3 linked regions of the Homo sapiens genome follow. The protein of the gene in region 1 interacts with the protein of each later gene in a biochemical or structural test. Each region holds a gene or a part of one and is shown on either strand. Other genes may lie near its edges.

Evidence for each region. Proteins that work in one complex are often made in the same cells at the same time.
Region 2: the proteins of ASF1B (region 1) and CDAN1 form a complex in vitro, tested with the Homo sapiens proteins (one study listed by BioGRID).
Region 3: the proteins of ASF1B (region 1) and CHAF1A form a complex in vitro, tested with the Homo sapiens proteins (one study listed by BioGRID).

Annotation. Positions count from the first base shown.
Region 1 is NC_000019.10:14,130,090-14,133,589, forward strand, and holds part of ASF1B (histone chaperone ASF1B), read right to left. Parts: intron 1-3,500. UniProt on the Homo sapiens protein: Histone chaperone that facilitates histone deposition and histone exchange and removal during nucleosome assembly and disassembly. Cooperates with chromatin assembly factor 1 (CAF-1) to promote replication-dependent chromatin assembly.
Region 2 is NC_000015.10:42,727,129-42,730,628, forward strand, and holds part of CDAN1 (codanin-1), read right to left. Parts: coding exon 3,470-3,500; intron 3,088-3,469; coding exon 3,000-3,087; intron 2,758-2,999; coding exon 2,668-2,757; intron 2,495-2,667; coding exon 2,440-2,494; intron 2,235-2,439; coding exon 2,101-2,234; intron 1,999-2,100; coding exon 1,895-1,998; intron 1,683-1,894; coding exon 1,524-1,682; intron 1,140-1,523; coding exon 1,076-1,139; intron 906-1,075; coding exon 827-905; intron 642-826; coding exon 493-641; intron 1-492. UniProt on the Homo sapiens protein: May act as a negative regulator of ASF1 in chromatin assembly.
Region 3 is NC_000019.10:4,426,640-4,430,139, reverse strand, and holds part of CHAF1A (chromatin assembly factor 1 subunit A), read right to left. Parts: intron 1,477-3,500; coding exon 1,250-1,476; intron 703-1,249; coding exon 534-702; intron 433-533; coding exon 352-432; intron 1-351. UniProt on the Homo sapiens protein: Acts as a component of the histone chaperone complex chromatin assembly factor 1 (CAF-1), which assembles histone octamers onto DNA during replication and repair.

The DNA.
Region 1 (3,500 bases):
ACTCTGTTGCCCAGACTAGAGTGCAGTGGCACGATCTCGGCTCACTGCAAGCTCCGCCTCCCGGGTTCATGCCATTCTTGTGCCTCAGCCTCCTAATCAGCTGGGACTACAGGCACCCCCCACCACGCCCGGCTAATTTTTTTTTCTATTTTTAGTAGAGACGGGGTTTCACTGTGTTAGCCAAGATGGTCTCGATCTCCTGACCTTGTGATCCGCCTGCCTTGGCCTCCCAAAGTGCTGGGATTACAGGCATGAGCCACTATGCCCAGTCGAGAATCATCTTAAATTTGCTGAAGTGCCCAGGCATGGTGATGTGCACCTGTGGTTCCAGCTACTTAGGAAGCTGAGGTGGGAGGACTGCTTAAGCCCAGGAGTTCAAGTCCAGTCTGGGCAACATAGTGACACCCTATCTCTTTAAAAAAAAAAAAAAAAATCTGGCTGCAGTGTTATAAGTAGAGACATACGTGTATGATTTCATCTCTAAATATAATCTTTCTTTAGAATTATACATGGGACACAAATCACCAATACAGCAGGAACTCATAGCTATGAGTACAGGACACAGCTGTACACATGACGTGTGTACCTAACCTTCTGAGCAATGTCAAGGCAACTCAACTGTGTCCCATGTTATCTCTCTGCGCTAACTTCACAAGCTAGTCCCTGTGCAAGACATACCTCCACTGTGTGTTTGTGTGTATATATATATATATATATATATAAATGATAAGACTAAAGACATGTACACAATTAGTATAGCTGAACTAGCTAAAAAGTCTGCTTCCTGCTTTTTTGTTGTTGTTTTTTTGAGACAGTCTTGCTCTGTCGCCCAGGCTGGAGTGCAATGGCGCAATCTGGGCTCACTGCAATTTCCATCTCCCGGGTTCAAGCGCTTCTCCTGCCTCAGCCTCCCAAATAGCTGGGACTACAGGCACCTGCCACCAAGCCTGGCTAACTTTTGTATTTTTAGTAGAGACAGGGTTTCACCACATTGGCCAGGCTGGTCTCAAACTCCTGACCTCAGATGATCCACCTGCCTTGGTCTCCCAAAATGCTGGGATTACAGGGGTAAGCCACTGTGCCTGGCCATTTTTTTTTTCTTTTTTTTTTTTTGAAACAGAGTCTCGCTCTGTCACCCAGGTTGGAGTGCAGTGGCACAATCTCAGCTCACTGCAACCTCTGCCTCCCGGGTTCTAGCGATTCTTCTGCCTCAGCCTCCTGAGTAGCTGGGATTATAGCTGCGTGCCACCATGCCTGGCTAATTTTTGTATTTAGTAGAGCCGGGGTTTCACCACGTCGGTTAGGCTGGTCTCGAACTCCTGACCTTGTGATCCATCCGCCTCGGCCTCCCAAAGTGCTGGGATTACAGGTGTGAGCCACCACACCTGGCTTTTTCTTTTTTTTTTTTTTTGAGATGGAGTCTTGCTTTGTTGCCCAGGTTGGGGTGCAGTGGTGCAATCTCGGCTCGCTGCAAGCTCTGCCTCCTGGGTTCACGCCATTCTCCTGCCTCAGCCTCCCGAGTAGCTGGGACTACAGGCGCCCGCCACCACACCCGGCTAATTTTTTGTATTTTTAGTAGAGACGGGGTTTCACCATGTTGGCCAGGCTGGTCTCGAACTTCTGACCTCAGGTAATCTGCCCGCCTTGGTCTCCCAAAGTGCTGGGATTACAGGCGTGAGCCACCATGCCAGGCCTCCTTTGTTTGTTTGCTTTTTGCCTTTGTTCATAATCAAAGATGAGCTCTGCTGCCATAACAACTTCGTTATTTCTGGGTCAGAACATCTGGCTTCTATGACTTATTCAACCAGTGTCTGTTGAATTTCTCAGCTAAATGTGGAAGAATCTATTTCCAGATGTGGAAGATAAAAGTGCAAAGGGGGCTTGGGGCCCCTGAGAAATAGGGGTCACCCAACTGGGGCTTAGGGGTTAGGGTGGTTTTTTTTTTTTTTTTTTTTGAGATGGGGGTCTTGCTCTCTCACCCAGGTTGGAGTGCAGTGGTGCAATCATGGCTCACTGCAGCCCTGACCTCCTGGGCTCATGCAATCCTCCCACTTCAGCCTCCTGAGTAGCTGGGACCACAGACACGTGCCACCAAGTCCCGTTAATTTTTTGATGTTTCTGTAGAGACAAGGTTTTGCTATGTTACCCAGGCTGGCCCAAATTCCTGGGCTCAAGAGATCCTCCTTCCTTAGCCTCCCAAAGTGCTGGAATTACAGGCATGAGCCACCTCACACAGCTGGGTTGGGGGTTTTGTCAGATTTTCAGTTGACGCTGCTGAGAGTGAGGCAGATTCTCCCTTTTTCATGGAGAGGAGTCCAGAAGGAGGCAGAAAGCAAGCTGGCAGATCAGTCACAGAGAGCCCTAGGACTGGAAGAGCCAGGATTTCTCACTTGAGTTACTCAAAGGAAAAGCTTTATCATCCAGGTACAATTAACAATAGCATTCTCTGGCCAGGCGCTTAGGATTCAAAGTGTAATCCCAGCACTTTGGGAGGCTGAAGTGGGCATATCACTTGCGATCAGGTTTGAGACCAGCCTGGCCAACATGGTGAAACCTCGTCTCTACTAAAGACACAAAAATTAGCCGGGCATGGTGGCTCAAGCTTGTAATCCCAACTACTTGGGATACTGAGGCCGGAGAATCGCTTGAACTCGAGAGGTGGAGATTGCAGTGAGCTGAGATTGCACCACTGCACTGTAGCCTGGGTGACATAGTGAGATTCCATTTCTAATAATAATCATCATCATCATCATAATCATACGACGGGCACGGTGGCTCACGCCTGTAATCCCAGGCCGAGGCGGGCGGATCACAAGGTCAGGAAATCGAGACCATCCTGGGTAACACAGTGAAACCCCGTCTCTACTAAAAATCCAAAAAGTTAGCTGGGCATGGTTTCGGGCGCCTGTAGTCCCAGCTACTTGGGAGATTGAGGCAGGAGAATGGCGTGAACCCGGGAGGCGGAGCTTGCAATGAGCCATGATCACGCCACTGCACTCCAGCCTGGGTGACACAGCGAGACTCCATCTCAAAAATAAATAAATAAATAAATAAATAAATAAATAATAATAATAGCACTTCCCTTCACTGCATTTTGAGTGTCCTGATTAGGCAATAAATTCTGTGGTCATTCCTATCTATGCTCCACCCCTGAAACAGGGAATCCTTCCTTTCTTTCCCTGGATTGGAGCAAAGATAAAGAATTTAGATTCAAAACTTCAGTGCCAATACTTCTACAAACTGGCTGTGTGACTCTGGTGAAGTCACTCCATTTCTATTAAAAAATGATCAGCAGAGGCTGGACGCAGTGGCTCACGCCTGTAATCCCAGCACTTTGGGAGGCTGAGGCGGGCGGATCACCTGAGGTCAGGAGTTCAAGACCAGCCTGGCCAAGATGGTGAAACCCCGTCTCTACTAAAAATACAAAAATTAGCCAGGCGTCATAGCAGGCACCTGTAATCCCAGCTGCTCGGGAGGCTGAGGCAGGAGAATCGCTTGAA
Region 2 (3,500 bases), on another chromosome or scaffold:
CTGGCTCGCTTCAGTCCATGGGCTGTTTCTTGACTCCTGCTCTAGAGAGTCTTTGAGTTTTAAAATAAAGTTAGGAGAACTGATGGTTTATTCTTACTGCCTGTAACTAAACAAGCATCACCTCCCACATAGAACATTTCTGAAATTGTCTCCAAATACTGGGGCGACTGCCTCCTAGAGACTCATTTGCTATCAAGCCATTCACCACCGCACTCTCATCACCATCTGCATAATAAGCATTTAGTCAAAAATGTCCTAGCTGCCCTTTTCCCCTTTTGGATGATTAAAAAGTCAGAGTGACAATTAGGAAAACCATTCAATTCAGCTCTGCCCTACCTAACCCCCATTCAGTAATGAGTGAAACGGGGACTAGCTGGACAGCACAGACAGCTTCTACATAAAAATCCTGGAGCTGATGTGAGAAAGGAAAAACCAGGAACAGAGCAGGGGGGTGGGAGCAGGGAAGCCAAAGGGAGTAGGGTAGCCGTGTACTTTTATCTCGGAGATGAGGTGGGAGGGGAGGGGAGCATGGTGCTCACAGGCGCGGGAGCAGCCCCTCCGCTCCCCCCGGGCAGCAGGTTCAGGACCCTGGGCTCGAAGTGTGCGACTCACTGCTGCTTTCACCTCCCTCCTGATCAGTGCTGTGGGGCAGAGGGAGAATGGGAAAGGAATCACGGGAGGGCCCTGCACAGGTTCACCATGCTAACCCATGCCTTTTGCTGTTTCCTACTGGCTCTCAGTCCCATCGCCCACAAGATGCCTCTGACTCTCTGCCAGTCCACTTTTTAAACACTTGATTCAGCCACTCCCCCATCCAGGACCTTACCTGTGATGTTGGCTGACAGCCAAGCACAGGCTTTCTCTGTTGCAAGCCCCACAGCAATGTTCTCTGCACTGCTCAGAACCTGCGAAACAGAACTACAGAGTCAGGGGCTAGGGGAGGGCTGGGTGCAACAAAGGATGCCAGAGTCGAGCACTGACCCCGCCCCCACACACCCTCCCGCAGCCTCAGACTACTCCGTGCACCTCCCCACAACTGCCTGGCCTGCTAGCTGCAGGCCTCCCTCACACGTACGGCTGCCGGGGTCTCCTCTGGAAGCAGCGCCCGCACAGCCCCAGGGCTCTTCCTTTGACAGAACCTAAAAGGGGACAGATGGGGTCAGTGATCTCTGGGTATTTCAGCCTGGCTGCAGAAGTAAATGCCCCGAGTGCACCAAGCCCCTGACCTGGGAGGCTGTACCTTGGAAGGAGGCACCGTTTGCCCTCCCGCCCCACCCCAGGTGCCAGAGAAAAGACAAGCCCAACTGCCAGCCCCACAGCATCACACACGCTCCCAAACCTAGGTTTGGCTTTTGTGCCACAGAAGGCCTACAGCCAGTGCAGGGCTTATAGAGAATGGGCGCAGGGAGAAGAAAAAAGGAGGCATGAAGAGAAGAAAGGGAAAAAAGAGTAAGTGTGAAGGAGGAAAGAAAGGACAGAGAAAGCCAAGAGGAGAGTGGATCAAATGGACCAGCGCTGCTTACTCCCGCCCCAGGGCCAATGCCTGGGCCCCGTGAGGGCACAGCTGGGAACACAAGATCTCCAACAGCTGGGCTGGGTCTCCCCCTTCCTCTCCCTGTGTCACCAGCTGCTCTTGGAGAAGTGACTCTGCCTGGCGCACCAGATCTGCCACCAGTGTAGCCCTGCAGCAGGGACAGCAAGGTTGGGGATGGTTGGAGGGTTAATCGGAAAGAGGCTGAAAATTTATGGGAATTTGGTCAGAAATTTGCTTCAAAATGTGTCAGCCATTTCAGCCCCACACCCACCCTCTGGCTGACCTTCTCAGTTTAGCAACTGAGGAAAAAGGGGAAAAAATGGTAGGGCGATGAGACCAGGATCCTTAACCCACTCTTACTTGATATGTTTGACACAGTTTGATCCAATTCTTTCTGCCACGAACTCTACGGTCCGGCGCAAGGAGGGCGGCTGGTTGTGGAAAAAGGCCTGGGCGAGCTGTGCCTGGGGGGAGGAGGGAGAGGCAGCAAGGCTTCCTCCAGCCTCCCTGTCCCCGCCCCCAACCCCCCCTCATTTTCCCCACGGCTGTCTCCGCCCTGCCCTTACCTGCAGCCCCTGGCTGGTCTGGGAAGGCTGGGCTCCCAGGCTGGTGGTAGTGGTGGGGGTGATTTTCCTCATGAAGCCCCCACTCCGTCCACTACTGCCTGACACCCACGAAGCGAGCAGTTTCCGGAGCTCTCCTGTATCAGTGAAGTCCAAGTTCTCAGTTCCAGAACCCTCTCCCCTCCCTAAGTATCATGGACTTTACTTGTGGAGTCAAGAGGCTCAGATACCCAGGAATGACTATGAACGGAGCAATATCCAAGGGAGCTGGGCCAAGGGGGTGCCTTTTGGGTACTCATGGAGGGACAGACCAAGGACCGTCCAGGGAAGACCGGTGCTCACCGATGTAGGGGCAGCAGGTGTAGAGCAGCTGCTGGTCCACCACAGGCGCATTGTCCTGGGGAGAAAAGGTTGGTGTCAGCAGACTGCCCCTCCCCCAGCGCACCCAGAAAGCAGGCAGTTGGCAGGGCCTTTACAAGGGTTACATCTGCCCCTGGCTGGGCCTCCCCAGGCAGCCCACTTCCTTTATTCCTGAGTTTCCCATGGCTCTGGCGGAACCCCAGCACTCACCAAGCCATGCTCTGGGGCTACTGTGTCCACCTCAAAGGCATATGAGGGACCCTCTTCCAGAAAGAACAAGTCCTCAGGGACTGTGGGAATCTGGCAAGACAGTCACAATTCAGGTCAACTTCAGAGACCCCCACCCAACCCACCCCACCTCCTGCACGGTCCCAGGGTGTAGGCGCCAGCTTCAAAGCAGCCACCTCTGAGATGATGGGAATCCCCAGGCCTTTCCTGAACCTTCGTCTTCCAGCCCTTGCCTCATTCGCACTCAGACATTTGCCCACTCCCCATCTTCAGCTGTAGAACCTCTCTCCAATCTGGACCCTCACTCTGCCCACCTGGAAAAGCCAGCCCAGGACAGCAAGTAGCAGCAGCTTGTTCAGGAAACACATCTTCCCCTCACTCTCCTGCGACAACACCAAGCTCCTGAAACATCAATGGGCAGTACACGGGTTTGAGCAGAAAGGGGAAGGGAATGGAGGCAAACGCCATCAGTGGAAACTGGCTTGCAAAAGCAGAACTAAAAGGGACTGGGGCCATGTTGGCAAGCAGGATCCCCCCAGCCCCGCCTCCTGCATGGGGACTGTCTCTCAGCGGGGCCACCTCAGGAACAGCATGAGGCCAATGAAAGTGCAGATGATTTCCCACTGTACCTCAGGGGAGCCAATCGTGCCTCTCCCAGGGCTCAGTTATGGCCAGGGCCCCACACGCACAGTGCAGACTGCTCGACCCTCTTTATTAATAGCAGGCTTGACCAATGTCCCGAGTCCCGAATCCTTTCATCAAGCCTCAGCCTTGTTCCACTCACCGGTGCAGGCGCAGCAGGAGAGTGAAGATGT
Region 3 (3,500 bases), 9.7 Mb from region 1:
ACACGGTGAGCATCGGCAGAAAGCCCACTAGGTCACAGCAGCTGGGCAGTCAGGAGGAAATGGTGTGCAGCAGGCCCGCAGGAGGCAAGAGGGGGCTGTGGGGCCACGGTGCAGATGCGGACGGGATCCCATCCCCAGCAGCCACGTGGGCGAGTGTCACCAGATGAGATTTTTCGAGAGAAGCTGGAAGTCTGGATGTTGAGGTGCGTTCAGGTTTCAGACCACACAGCAGGTCAAACACCAGCTGTCAGTGAGTGAACACAGCTGGGCTGCATCCTTAGCCCCTCACTGTGGGACAGAGACTCAAACACAAGCCGTCTGTGAGTGAAGACAGCTGGGGCACATCCTTACCCCCTCACTGTGGGACAGGGACTCCCCAGGCTCCTCTTCTTCCCACTCCTCATCACTGTCCACCTCATAGTCCAGGAGCTTCTGAGAAAAGAAACACATGGGACTCACAACTGTCTTTGGGGCTGGAGGAAAGGGGCACAGTGAGGAGGTACGGGGACGGAGGCACTCTGGGGCTAGCTCACCGTGTCCTGGGCCCAGGGGTCTCGCGCGCGGATGAGTGCCGTCTTCTTATTCCAGGTACCCCAGTAGGCAGGCCGGTGGTTCTCACAGAACTGCAGGAGCTTCATCCTGCCAAACTTCCTCCTCTCGGGAACACCGTCGCCCTTCCCACGCTCCACGATGACGACATCACTGAGAAGGAAAACCCCAGGCTCAGGATCACGCTGCCTTACAGACCTGCTCACAAACCTCCCAGGAACCTCCCTGTGAAGCTGGCCTAACAATTCTAGAAAGATGGGCATTTGTTAAAAAGCAGCACTGCCTGTCCCCAAAGAAAGGTCAGGAACATGGACTGAAGGGACAGATGGAGGAGGGTGCAGCCTGCAGGGTGAGAGGGAGGACAGCTGCCCAGGTGCAGCCCCAGAGCATTTTTAGCAAGGGAGGTTCTGTGGAATGAGATTTGCAAGAGCGAGGTGTTGGGGGGTATCCTTCACTGGAGACCAGCAGGGAAATAAGATTCCTCCACGAGGAGCTGGGAAGACAGGGAGAGGAAGACTTCAGGAGCTTACAGGAAGGCCAGGTGGAGAGAGGCCTGAGCCAGCACCGAAGCCCAGGGCCCGAGGGCACTAGGAAGCAAGCAACAGAAGGACCCAGAGCTCCCACCCCGGGGACCCCAGGGTTCAGGATGCTGGCCTCCAGCATCACTAGTGGGTGAAGGCCGACCTCCTCAGGCTCTGACCTGTTAAAAATATCTGCATTCCGGGTGGAAACGTGCGTGGGTCCGGACCTCAGGGGCTGCCGGCCTTTGAGGTCTTTCAAGAAGGAGAACTCGCCGCTCTGCTGCTGGAGGAGCTGGTCCAGCTGACTGCAGAGGTCTGGATGGAAAGCGGTCCGACGCCGAGGGGCCAGGACCATGTGCTCTTTAATTTCAAAGGGGGCAAACTTCCCACAGGAGCCGGCCAGGGTCTGAAATCAAGAAGAGACCCGATGGGGTCTTCGAGCAATGGGAGAAAGGAGGCACCATGGACGCACACAGCAGGGTGCTGGTGGGATTCATCCAGGCTAAGGCCAAGGCACAGACTCAAAAGCCCAGGCACTGTGTGGGTCCACAGAGCCGAGTTTCCAGAGCTACAGGGCAGAGGGCAGATTGGCAGTCTCAAGGGCCGGCGGTGGGGGGACAGACTACAAGGGAGCTGTTTTGAGTGATGGAAATAGGGTTTATCTTCATTATGGTTAGCTGGCCCTGTCATTTGTCAACACAAATGTCCTGAAAAGAGTTTATTTTATTGGATGTAAATTATATCTCAACAAACCTCACTTAAAAAAAAAAAAAAAAAAGGCCGGGGGCAGTGGCTCATGCCTGTAATCCCACCACTTTGGGAGGCTGAGGAGGGCGGATCACCTGAGGTCAGGAGTTCGAGACCAGCCTGCCCAACATGGTGAAACCCCATCTCTACTAAAAACAAAAATTAGGCCAGGGGCAGTGGCTCATGCCTGTAATCCCACCATTTTGGGAGGCGGAGGAAGGCGGATCACCTGAGGTCAGGAGTTCGAGACCAGCCTGCCCAACATGGTGAAACCCCATCTCTACTAAAAACAAAAATTAGGCCAGGGGCAGTGGCTCATGCCTGTAATCCCACCACTTTGGGAGGCTGAGGAGGGCGGATCACCTGAGGTCAGGAGTTCGAGACCAGCCTGGCCAAGATGGTGAAACCCCGTCTCTACTAAAAATACAAAAATTAGGCCAGGCGCGGTGGCTCACGCCTGTAATTGTAGCGCTTTGGGAGGCCGAGGCGGGTGGATTGTCTGAGCTCAGGAGTTCGAGACCAGCCTGGGCAACACAGTGAAACCCGGTCTCTACTAAAATACAAAAAATTAGCCGGGCACGGTGGCATGCACCTGTAGTCCCAGCTACTTGGGAGCCTGAGGCAGGAGAATTGCTTGAACCTGGGAGGCAGAGGTTGCAGTGAGCTGAGATCGTGCCACTGCACTCCAGCCTGGGGGATAGAGCAAGACTCCATCTCAAAAACAAAACAAAACAAAACAAAAATTAGCTTGGCATGGTGGTGGGCACCTGTAGTCCCAGCTACTCAGGAGGCTGAGGCGGGAGAATCGTTTGGATCTGGGAGGCAGAGGTTGCAGTGAGCCCAGATCACGCCACTGTACTCTAGCCTGGGCCTGAGGCAGGAGAATTGCTTGAACCTGGGAGGCAGAGGTTGCAGTGAGCCGAGATCGTGCCACTGCACCACTCCAACCTGGGGGATAGAGCAAGACTCCATCTCAAAAACAAAACAAAACAAAACAAAACAAAAATTAGCTTGGCATGGTGGTGGGCACCTGTAGTCCCAGCTACTCAGGAGGCTGAGGCAGGAGAATCGTTTGGATCTGGGAGGCAGAGGTTGCAGTGAGCCCAGATCACGCCACTGTACTCTAGCCTGGGCAACAGAGCAAGACTCCTTCTCAAAAAAAAAAAAAAAAAAAAAAAAAAAAAAAGACAGGGTCTTTTTTTGAAAGATCACAACTCCTCTTTTTTTTTTCTGAGATGGAGTCTCGCTTCATTGCGCAGCCTGGAGTACAGTGGTGCAATCTCGGCTCACTGCAACCTCTGCCTCCTGGGTTGGGCGATTCTCCTGCCTCAGCCTCATGAGCAGCTGGGATTACAGACGCCTACCACCACGCCCGGCTAATTTTTGTATTTTTAGTATTTTTAGTAGAGACACCTTGTTGGCCAGGCTGGTCTCAAGCTCCTGACCTCAGATGATTCACCCGCCTTGGCCTCCCCAAATGCTGAGATTACAGGCATAAGCCACCGCACCTGGCCAAAAGGAGAAATTTCAGTATAATGAAAGACACTGTAGCTGGGCGTGGTGGCTCACACCTGTAATCCCAGCACTTTGGGAGGCCGAGGTAGGCGGATCACCTGAGGTCAGTAGTTCAAGACAAGCCTGACCAACATGGAAAAACCCCGTCTCTACTAAAAATACAAAATT